2 linked regions of the Homo sapiens genome follow. The protein of the gene in region 1 interacts with the protein of each later gene in a pairwise test. Each region holds a gene or a part of one and is shown in the gene's direction. Other genes may lie near its edges. The genes, in order: PTGES2 and CFAP141.

Region 1 (6,927 bases):
CCAATGGCCACCTTCTCGCCCTGATGGACACGTCTCCACCTGTTTCTCTGTGGAGTGTGAGCATCAGGAAACCCTCTGTGCTCCCAGCGAGGCTGCCGGTGAGTGGAATCTGGCTTTGGGAAGCATCTTGAGTGCAGGACACCAACAGCATCAGAAATTTCTGAACAGCACCTGCCTTCTAGCGTGTAACGAGGTGCCACAGGGAGAGCCCCAGTGCTTGGCACACTGTAGGCATGTAGCAGCTTTTCGTGGAACTAAGGGACAAAGGTGCGACTTGCAAGGACACAGTGGCTTTTCTTCTTTTAGGAGAGCCCAGAGGTGCTCCTTAGGCAGGCCAATAATGGGAGCTGAGTGAGGGGGAGGAGGAAGAGGGTGGCTTTGCTTCCCTGGGGTGGGGGGTTCTATTCCCTAATGGCCATTGGAAATCAGCATTCATACTTGGCAAGAAATAGCTAACCTCTACCTTGGGGAGCATAGGCTTGGAGAGGATGTGCCTACTGCAACCACTGGCTTTCAAAAGACTGGGCTTTCTTTGCTGATGCTGGATCAAACGTACTGAGACATGGCCACAGAAGCTCTGCTGCTTTATGGACATGAAAGGTGGGTGACAAAGCCCTGAAGAGGGGACTAGGGTATCCTAAATTCTGAAATCTGTCCCCAGATGCACAAGCCTCCACGTGGAAAAGGGAGAAGGACTGCTTGCATGGTGTACGGCCTTGGGTGCAGTGACGGATGGCGCACACCTGCCCCAGTGCCCTCCATTGAGGTTTGGAGCAGTGACCTCACCTCTGCACAGACCCACCTGCAGGGTGGGGGGATAGGACGGGGCTATCTCAAGTGTGGGGGGCACCAGGGCAGGGCACCTTGGAAGTATTGCCAGGATAACTAACTGAAGACCAGTGGTTAGGGCAGGGCAGCCCTGCCCCTGTTCTCTGTCCTGTCTCTCAGGAACTGGCGTGAGATGGGGAGATCAGGTGCACAGTGAGGGGCGTAGCTGTGGATTGAACATAGCATGGTCAGGCTTCTGTCTTTTATTATTTATTTATTCATTTATTTATGATATATCATAGTTGTACATACTTTGGGGGTACATGTGATACTTTGATACCTGTATGAAACATGTAATGATCAAATCAAGGAAATTAAGATCTTCATCACCTCAAACATTTATCTTTTTTGTGTGTGGGCGGCAAGCCACCCAGGCACCGAGGCAAGAGACAGAGGACACGAGCTCTTCCAGTATAATAAAATATAAAACAAGAATAGTTATACCAGATATAGATCTTAGATATGATTATATATGACTATCATTAATCATTAGTTTGTAGCAATTACTTTTTATTCCAATATTATGATAATCCTCGCTCTATAATCATAGCCTAGGAAAAACCAGGCCATACAGAGATAGGAGCTGAGGGGACATAGTGAGGTGTGACCAGAAGACAAGAGTGCGAGCCTTCTGTTATGCCCACACAGGGCCACCAGAGGGCTCCTTGGTCTAGCGGTGACGCCAGCATCTGGGAAGACGCCCGTTACCAGGCGGATCATGGTCCAGCAGTAGCAAAAGGTGTCAAGGAACAACACCTGCTACTTAGCAGACCGGGAAAGGGAGGGTGGGGGTCTCCCTTTCCCCGGGGGAGTTTAGAGAAGACTCTGCTCCTCCACCTCTTGTGGAGGGCCTGACATCAGTCAGGCTCGCCCGCAGTTATCTGGAGGCCTGTCTCCCTGTGATGCTGTGCTTCAGTGGTCACGCTCCTAGTCCGCCTTCATGTTCCATCCTGTACACCTGGCTCTGCCTTCCAGATAGCAGTAGTCAATTAGTGAAAATACTAATAGTCCCTGATATGCAGAAATAATGGCGTAAGCTGTCTTTCTCTTTGTCTCCTCTCCCTCTCTGCCTCCGCTGCCAGGCAGGGAAGGGCCCCCTGTCCAGTGGACACGTGACCCACGTGACCTTACCTATCATTGGAGGTGACTGACATTCTTTACCCTGCCCCTTCTGCCTTGTATCCAATAAATAACAGTGCAGCCAGACATTCGGGGCCACTACCGGTCTCCGCGCATTGGTGGTAGTGGTCCCCCGGGCCCAGCTGCCTTTTCTCGTCTCTTTGTCTTGTGTCTTTATTTCTACACTCTCTCGTCGCCGCACACAGGGAGAGACCTACCGACCCTGTGGGGCTGGACCCTACAGCGCCCTGTGTCACCTCGGCAGCTTAAGCACGTGCAACTGGTTGCTCTGTAAGCTGCTCACATTTGGCAAGGCTGCGAGGCCACACCAGCAAAGCCAGGTGGCTGGAGATGCTGACCCAGCAGAGCATCGCGCTCCCCGCCCCGGGCCAGACCCTCCTACTAAGCCCAGCAGGCCAAACACGGACCCGCCCCCCTCAAGTGCCTAGGTGTCCCCGGGGCCTGAACACATCAAGTTACATTTTGATGGAGTTAGAATCCGGAAAATCAAGAGTGTGGAAGATCAGGAGCAATTAATGTAAACAGGAGGAGGATGAAGCTGGGAGGAGCAGGAGCTAGCAAGCAGGAGCTAGCAAGCAGGAGCGTGAGAGTGGCGCTGGGAGAAGGCCTGGATAGGGATAGAGTAGAGCACAGAACATGGGGGTCACCCTCAACCACCCCTAAACACTCTAAGCTCGAGCAGTCCCTCAACTCCTGGTCTGTAAAGTGGCTGAAGGAAGTGGGTGGAGCAAAACCCATATGGGCGAGTGTCCCAGCAGCTGCCTCAGTTTCCCTATCTGTAAAACGGGGCTGGGGACCTGCAGCTCTCACGGGACTGGTTACCCGCTCGCGGGTGCTCGCCCTGCATCCGAGACAGCACCTACAACTCCAAACCCACTCGGGGCGGGTCGAGGTGGGCCCTTCGGTCCCTTCGAAGCCAACATCCCGATTCCCCTTCCCGGGAAGGCACCCCCGGAAACGCCAAGGTCGCTCCAGCAGTCTCCTCGGGTCACCCGCTTCCCCGAAGCCGTCGTCCTCGCCTTCCGCTCTCGTCTTCACCGGCATACTCAGGTCCCCGCTGGGGACTGACACTGCGGGCTCGGTCGCCGCAAGGACTGGAAGGAAGGTGGAAGATGCGGGGCGAAAGCGGAGCGAGAAGAGTGGGACGCGGCGGAGCAGCAGAGCCGGGACTCAGAGCTCCCCCCTCGCCCCGCCCCTCTCCCCGCCCACTCTGCGAGTCCCGCCCCCTCTCGGGCGCCGGGCGGGGCCATCCCGGGGCTGTCCGCGGAGACGCCTATGCGGTGGAGGCTCCGGGCTTCAGCTAGGGCGGGGGAGCCCAGCAGAAGGACCGAGCAGCCTGGCACCCCACTTTGCCATCCTCTCCCTGGAAATCTCGGGGTCGGCGGGCCGGCCGCTTCGCGTGGGCGAAATCAGAGACACGTGGTTTCCAAGGCCCCTTCGGGTTCGGGAAAATTTTATGGTTCGGGTCACAGTAGGAAGCGGACAATGAGGCGGGAGGGCAGAGAGAACCGCAACACCTGGTGCCGGGTCGGGTCGTTTCCGGGGCTTTCAGTGGCCGGAAGTCGCGGCGCCTGTACTGACTCTAGGAAGGGCTGGAGTTGTTTTGAATGGGCGCCCGTAAGAGAGGTGGGCAAGTACGTGTTACAGACGGCCACGCCGCCCTTTAGGCGGTCAAGGTGGGGCGAGGAGACGTTCGCCCCCCTGCAGTCGGCCGGGTCACTACCCAAGAGCCTTTGGAGGCGGAAGCATGGAACGGTCTGCAAACGTTCCCGAGCGGGCCTCTGCGGCTCTGGCGGGCGTTTCGAACTTGGGCGCCGGGCACACGCCCAGTCCCGAGAGCGCTGAGGGTTCCCTTAGCGTCGCCCTCACCCCGGCCAACCCGCGGGGCGCCAGAGTCCTGGCCCTTTAAACGCCGCGCGTGCCTCGGCGTCTTCGTTTCGCGCGCCCGCCCGCGGCGCCGGCGGAGCGAACATGGACCCGGCTGCGCGGGTGGTGCGGGCGCTGTGGCCTGGTGGGTGCGCCTTGGCCTGGAGGCTGGGAGGCCGCCCCCAGCCGCTGCTACCCACGCAGAGCCGGGCTGGCTTCGCGGGGGCGGCGGGCGGCCCGAGCCCCGTGGCTGCAGCTCGTAAGGGGAGCCCGCGGCTGCTGGGAGCTGCGGCGCTGGCCCTGGGGGGAGCCCTGGGGCTGTACCACACGGCGCGGTGGCACCTGCGCGCCCAGGACCTCCACGCAGAGCGCTCAGCCGCGCAGGTAAGGCCTGGCCCGGCCGGGGATGGGGATGCTGATCAGCGCCGAACTCGGGACTCCTGGGAACCCGCAGGGTCAGGAGTTGCCTCTGCCTGCTTGTGACCTTGGGCGAGTGACTTGGTCTGAAGTCTCCGAACCCTCTGTATTCTTTTGTGTAAAATAGGGGCACTCCTGATGCCTACTACCTGGAATTGTTCGAGTTCTCATAAAATCGTTCTTCTACCGTGGTTTTTTTTTTTTTTTTTTTTTTGGTTTGTTTATTTATGTTTTCGAGACAGGGTCTCGCATTATCGCCCAGGCTGGAGTGCGATCGCGGCTCACTGCAGCCTCTGCCTCCCAGGTTGAAGGGATCCTCCTGCCTCAGCCTCCCGAGTAGCTGGGACTATAGGCTCACCCCACTGCGCCCTGCTAATTTTTGTATTTTTTGTAGAGATAGGGTTTCACCATGTCGCCCAGGCTGGTCTCGAACTCCTGGCCTCAAGTGATCCGCCCACCTTGGCCTCTGAAAGTGCTGGGATCACAGGCGTGAGCCACTGCGCCCAGCCTTTACCATGTTTTAAGGAGACTTTTTTTTTTTGAGACGGAGTTTTTTTTTGCTCTGTTGCCCAGGCTGGAGTGCAGTGGCGCGATCTCGGTTCACTGCAACCTCCGCCTCCTGGGTTCAAGCAATTCTCCTGCCTCAGCCTCCCCAGTAGCTGGGATTACAGGCGCCTGCCACCCAGCCCGGCTAATTTTTGTATTTTTACTAGAGACGGGGGTCTCACCATGTTGGCCAAGCTGGTCTCGAACTCCTGACCTCAAATGAGCCACCCGCCTCGGCCTCCCAAAGTGCTGGGATTACAGGTGTGAGCCACGGAGCCCAGCCTCTACCGTGTTTTAAGACTTTTTTGATTAAGAGATGGGAGATCACAGGAAAGGGAAAGCCTTTTTCACTTTCCAAACGTTCATCATCCTCTCTCCCCACTGCCCCCAAATCCTAAGGCTGTGTATTTATTTAGTAGTAGTGGTGGTACCTTTATGGAACTGATGACTTAGACTCCAGGCTGAAACAGGAAGAGGTAGAAAGGTGCCCCCCCCAAGTGGTGACCCCCTAAGTGGTGGCCCAGCTGCCTTGAGACACTTTATACCTACCCCACACCTTGCAACTCTTCATTACTTGACTTCCCACCACCCGCCCACAGATGCTTATTTGCTGGACCAGAGGGAACAGAGGTGGGTAAAAAGGGCATGGAGTACTCTGTGTCTCCCTTCCTGCCTCCACGGTCCAGCTTCCCCTCTGAACACAGGGGGATGGTCTACAGTTGTGGCTTCCCGGCATGAACGTGCAGCAGGCTCCCCTGGGGGCTTTCCTGCGGAGCTTGCCACACGCAGGCCTTGGCTCAGATACCACCCTCCCCCTCGGATATTTGAGATAGACTTTGGCTGGAGGATCACATGAACCCCGGAGTTCAAGGCTGCAGTGAGCTGTGATCAAGCTACTGCACTCCAGCTTGGATGGCAGAGTGAGACCCTGTCTCCAGAGAAAAAAACAAGAAAGAGATTGGAGGTAGACCCCACTGGTGAACATGAGCCTGGGTGGTAGCCCAGCTCTGCCCCCAGAGGTCCCTGGGGTTAGAGGAGTGAGAGTGAACAAGTCAAGTTGAAACAGTTGTTCCATGTCTGTGGGAGTGGGGTGTATACCCTGGGGCTGTCTGGTGTCCCCTTGGGACTGGAGTGAGAAAAGAGGGGTCTGTCCAGTATGGGACAGAGACTAGAAGATTCCTCCTACACAACCTCGCAGCAAAGGGTGGGACTCCTGCTTGGGGACCGTGCTGGCCAGGGGCTTAAACCTGGGCTGCTGTCCAGTGCCTCCCTTTCCCCTACCGCCCCCTTCCATCTCTAGTTCCTCTTCCCGATGTTCTAGCGTCATTTCAGAAGACTCCTCTGGAAAACACCCTTGGGGGCAGGGCCTGGGCCTGGGGGTGCCAGGTCTAGAAGCCTTTTCCGTCTGCTGCCCGCAGCTCTCCCTGTCCAGCCGCCTGCAGCTGACCCTGTACCAGTACAAGACGTGTCCCTTCTGCAGCAAGGTCCGAGCCTTCCTCGACTTCCATGCCCTGCCCTACCAGGTGGTGGAGGTGAACCCTGTGCGCAGGGCTGAGATCAAGTTCTCCTCCTACAGAAAGGTGCCCATCCTGGTGGCCCAGGAAGGAGAAAGCTCGGTGAGCCCCAGGGAACCCCCTGCATCCTTCCTCCTTTCCTGGGTTGTCCTGGAGCGCCCCCTAGCCTGGCCTGGCTCTGCAGCCTGGGAAGGAACTTGTGATCCTTGTGCCTGTAAGGACTATGGGGGAAGTAGCTGCATACGGTAGATGCTCAATAAATGTAGGCTCTCTCCTTCCGTACCAAAACCAAACACCTGCTGGGTCTCAGGGAGGCAGAACACCACAGCTTAACAACATAGATTCTGAAATCAGCGATCTGGGTTTGAGGTGTGATTCACCCACTCACTAGCTGTGTGACTTGGGGCAAGTCACTTAGCCTCTCTGCGCTTGCTTGCTTCATGAGTCAACAAGGGACCATATTCTGGCTTGCAGGGACGGCAGATATGAAATGCCTGGCACAGTGCTTGGGGTCTAGTATGTAGCTTCCAGAACCCACCCTGCCCCTCTACCTGGGAGGCCAAATGGGTGAGTGGGCTGGGGCTTAGACCCCACGGCTTTCCCACACCTTCCTCCC
Region 2 (4,749 bases), on another chromosome or scaffold:
AACCAGAGATCGCACCACTGCACTCCAGCCTGGGCAACAGAGCAGGACTCTGACTCAGAAAAAAAAAAAAGTAAAAACTACAGTCATTCCCAACAAAGTATATATATATATATATATATATATATATATATATATATATATATATATATATATATATATATTTGCCCAGTCAGAGATAACAACTTTTTTTTTTTTTTGAGGCAGAGTCTCTCTAAGACAGAGTCTTACTCCACCACCCAGGCTAGAGTGCAGTGGTGCAATCTCGGCTCACTGCAGCCTCCACCTCCTGGGTTCAAGTGATTCTCGTGCCCCAGCCTCCTGGGGAGCTGGGATTACAGGTGTGTGGCACCACGCTCGGCTAATTTTTGTATTTTTAGTAGAGATGGGGTTTCACCATGTTGGCCAGACTGGTCTTGAACTCCTGGCCTCAAGTGATCTGCCCGCCTCAGCCTCCCGAAGTGCTGGGATTACAGGCATGAGCCATTGCACCCAGAAAGTTTTTACTTTTCACTTAATGTATTTTTTTTTTCCTTGGGACGGAGTCTTGCTCTGTCGCCCAGGCTGGAGTGCAGTGGCACCATCTTGGCTCACTGCAAGCTCTGTCTCCTGGGTTCACGCCATTCTTCTGCCTCAGCCTCCCGAGTAGCTGGGACTACAGGCACCCGCCACTGCGCCCAGCTAATTTTTTTATATTTTTAGTAGAGACGGGGTTTCACCGTGTTAGTGAGGATGGTCTCGATCTCCTGACCTCGTGATCTGCCCGCCTGGGCCTCCCAAAGTGCTGGGATTACAGGCATGAGTCACCGCGGCCGGCCTCACTTAATGTATTTCTGTGTAGATTCAATTTTTTCAACATGTGGAAAATGTACTTTTGATTTTTTAAAAATGCCAACAGTAGATATATGTACATGCATGATGTATATTTATATTCTTTCTATATATTAAAAAACTTAAAACTGGCCTGGCATGGTGGCTCACTCCTGTAATCCCAGCACTTTGGGAGGCTGAGGCAGGCTGATCACTTGAGGTCTGGAGTTCGAGACCAGCCTGGCCAACATGGCAAAACCCCACCTCTACTAAAAATTTAAAAATTAGCAGCCAGGCATGGTGGCTTACGCCTGTAATCCCAGCACTTTGGGAGACTGAGACAGGTGGATTACATGAGGTCAGGAGTTCAAGACCAGCCTGGCCAACATGGTGAAACCTCTGTCTCTACTAAAAATATGAAAATTAGCTGGGCGTGGTGGCATGCACCAATAATCCCAGCTACTCAGGAGTCTGAGGCAGGAGAATTGCTTGAGCCCAGGAGACAGAGGCTGTAATGAACCCAGATTGCGCCACTGCACTCCAGCCTGGCTGACACAGTGAGACTCTGTCTCCAAAAAAAAAAAAAAAATTACCTGGGCGTGGTGGTGGGCGCCTGTAATCCCAGCTACTCAGGAGGATGAGGCATGAGAATTGCTTGAACCTGGGAGGCAGAGGTTGCAGTGAGCCAAGATCGGGCCATTGCACTCTGGCCTGGGCGACTGAGCGAGACTATTTCTCAAAAAAAAAAATTAAAACTTCAATGAAGATTCCAGTCTAGCCAGGGCTGAGAATCACTAGTATGAGGGAAGGGATATTAACTTTAGAGAAATTGGATTTGGGGCCAGGCGCGGTGGCTCATACCTGTAATCCCAGCACTTTGGGATGCTGAGTCAGGCGGATCACCTGAGGTCAGGAGTTCGACACCAGCGTGGCCAACACGGTGAAACCTCGTCTCTACTAAAAATACAAAAATTAGCCAGGTGTGGTGGCACATGCCTGTAGTCCCAGCGACTCAGGAGGCTGAGGCAGGAGGATCACTTGAACCCTGGAGGCAGAGATTGCAGTGAGCCAAGATTGCCTCACTGCACTCCAGCCTGGGTGACAGAGTGAGACTCTGTCTAAAAAAAAAAAAAAAAGCTGGATTTGAGTCCCAGGTCTGCCATTAAGTGACCTTGGGCATCTCACAACTTTTAGTTTCCTTACCTGTATCATGTAAAAATTAATGCCTATGGGCCAGGCGCGGTGGCGCATGCCTGTAATCCCAGCTACTCAAGAGGCTGAGGCAGGAGAATCACTTGAACCCGGGAAGTGGAGGTTGCAGTGAGCCGAGATCACACCATTGCACTCTAGCCTGGGCAACAAGAGCAAAACTCTGTCTCAAAATAAATAAATAAATAAATAAAATAACACCTATGCCACATAGTTACTGTAATGATTAAATGATATTATGTACTTAATACATACTAGGTTCTAAATTACCCTTTTAAGGATTTTACAGTCTTCTAACAGTGGGGCAGAGGTTCCAGGTGAAGAAACAGTCTTGGGCCAGGCGTGGTGGCTCACACCTATAATCCCAGCACTCTGGGAAGCCGAGGCAGGTGGATCACCTGAGGTCAGGAGTTCGAGACCAGCCTGACCAATATGGTGAAACCCTATCTCTACTAAAAATACAAAAAATTAGCTGGGCATGGTGCCAGGCACCTGTAATCCCAGCTACTTGGGAAGCTAAGGCAGGAGAATCACTTGAACCTGGGAGGCAGAGGTTGCAGTGAGCCAAGATTGCACCACTGTACACCAGCCTGGGCAACAAGAGTGAAACTCTGTCTCAAAAAAAAAGAAAAGAAAAAGAAAAAAGAAACAGCCTCACTCTATGGGTTTTTTGTCTCTACTCCTAACTCTAACCCACCCATTCAACCCCCACCTCTGTACCTGGAGCAGGTGGCGAAATTCACATACTCACTGTCTGTGGCAAATGGCATTGGGCCAGAGAAGAAACCCGTATGCCACCCTAAGGATGCAGGACACCATGGTACAGGAATTGGCACTGGCCAAAAAGCAACTACTAATGGTGAGTTCTAGCAGGGCAACCTGAAGTCTCATTCACTACTGCTGTGTGCCTTTGCCCATTGAGTTTTCCAAGCTCTTAGTGTGTGTCATTGCACATTTATCTTGTTTGCCTCTAGGTTTTCAGCATTACACCAGAGCAACACAACTCTAACTCCATTGCCAAAACTCTTTTTCATTAAGTGATTCTTTGCATCCACCTTACAGGCGGCAGGCACATGTTAAAGTCCCAAAGTATACTCTAGTTCCTGCTCCTTTCATCTTGGTGAGACTCAAAACTGCCTCTTAGATCGGGTGTGGTGGCTCAGGCCTGTAATCCCAGCACTTTGGGGGGCCAAGACGGGCAGATCGCTTGAGCCCAGGAGTTCAAGACCAGCTTGACCAACATGCCAAAACCACCTCTCTACTAAAAACACAAAAATTGGCCGGGCATGGTGGCACTTGCCTATAATCCCAGCTACTTGGGAGGCCGAGGCACGAGAATCACTTGAAACGAGGGCAGAGGTTGCAGTGAGCTGAAATTGTGCCACTGCACTCCAGCCTGGGCTACAACGTAAGACTTGGTCTCAAAAAAACAAAAAACAAAAAAAACTGCCTCTTAGTGCGTATCACTTGCCTCTCGGTACCTCTCTCTCTCCCGGGGTCCCCACTTGGTGCCATGTAACCATCTTTGTATCCCAGTTACTTAGTAGAGTTCCTGTTTCATGGTCTGTTCTCAGCAAATATTTGCTGAACATAGGGCTTTGCCTGTGGAGAAAAAAATTGGATAGGCTTCCCTCTGCTGGTTCAGCCTCTCTGCTACCACCCAGCTTTATGTCACAGCTAAGTCCAGCTCCAAGAGAACACAAATAATGGGAAAACAACTAGGAAGAAAGAATAAGAAAGGGTGGTAAACAGAGGCAAACAACACACTCTATTCTGCCCTCTCCACCAGGTCCGTCAAGCTGCCCTGCACCAGCTGTTTGAAAAGGAGCATCAGCAGTACCAGCAGGAACTAAATCAGATGGGCAAAGCTTTTTATGTAGAGAGATTCTGATGGCATCCAAAACACTGCTCTTCCATTCTCAACATGCCTGCTAACCTAGCCTTCTAGAACCTCTACCACCTTGAACCTCCTTCCCAAAACATACCTGGATCTTGCTATCTGTCAGGGACTTAAGACAGCACTTCCACTCTCACTTCTCCACTCTCTCGTTAATCCTTTGCCGCTATTTGGGAAACAATCTATGAAACAACAGTAACAACAAGAGTGACGCCTTGTGGTCATAGTGGGATTTACTATGTTGATGTAAGGGGGCAGGGGTGGGGAGGGGTGGACAATGAGAGTTGAGAATCCTGATTTGGTATAACAAATAAATTTACTTCCTAAAGGCTCAAACTTAGACCACTGGGCTCATTCTTTCATGTCTAAATCTTGATTTGTTTCAAAAGTGCTTATTTTTCAGCTACTGTAATCTTAACCTCCTGGATTTCACTTGCCATCTCTCAGATATCACTTTCACTTATCTTTTATTTATATTTGGACAAATTGTTCTGAATGTGGCTATTAATCTACAGACACCGTAGTGCTTGAGTGAGGAGGCCTGCATTTTGGGTTTTGAGTCAGCTAGTTATTGTGAAACTTTGGACAAGTCTCTTTCCACTGGGCCTGAATTCCCACCTATGCCAAGAGAGAGGATTCCAAACTTAAATGTCTCCAGGGGTCAGGCAGGTAATGTTACAGTTGTAAGGAAATAAGGAGTGGTGGGATTTGTAGGGGGCTGGAAAGAGCAGTCAAAATAAAGGCACTCAAAATTCTGAAAAATACTGAAAAGTACTGATTGACCATGTGCATCATATGAAGGCCATAGACAACTTTACTTACAAGGGTTCACTTTA

The links.
Region 2: the proteins of PTGES2 (region 1) and CFAP141 interact in binary tests that used the Homo sapiens proteins (3 or more experiments, as listed by UniProt).

What each region holds. Positions count from the first base shown.
Region 1 is NC_000009.12:128,124,730-128,131,656, reverse strand, and holds the start of PTGES2 (prostaglandin E synthase 2), read left to right. Parts: upstream 1-3,927; 5' UTR 3,928-3,939; coding exon 3,940-4,218; intron 4,219-6,215; coding exon 6,216-6,413; intron 6,414-6,785; exon of another isoform or gene 6,786-6,878; intron 6,879-6,927. UniProt on the Homo sapiens protein: Isomerase that catalyzes the conversion of PGH2 into the more stable prostaglandin E2 (PGE2) (in vitro). The biological function and the GSH-dependent property of PTGES2 is still under debate.
Region 2 is NC_000001.11:154,198,585-154,203,333, reverse strand, and holds the end of CFAP141 (cilia- and flagella-associated protein 141), read left to right. Parts: intron 1-2,745; coding exon 2,746-2,875; intron 2,876-3,805; coding exon 3,806-3,907; 3' UTR 3,908-4,249; downstream 4,250-4,749. UniProt on the Homo sapiens protein: Microtubule inner protein (MIP) part of the dynein-decorated doublet microtubules (DMTs) in cilia axoneme, which is required for motile cilia beating.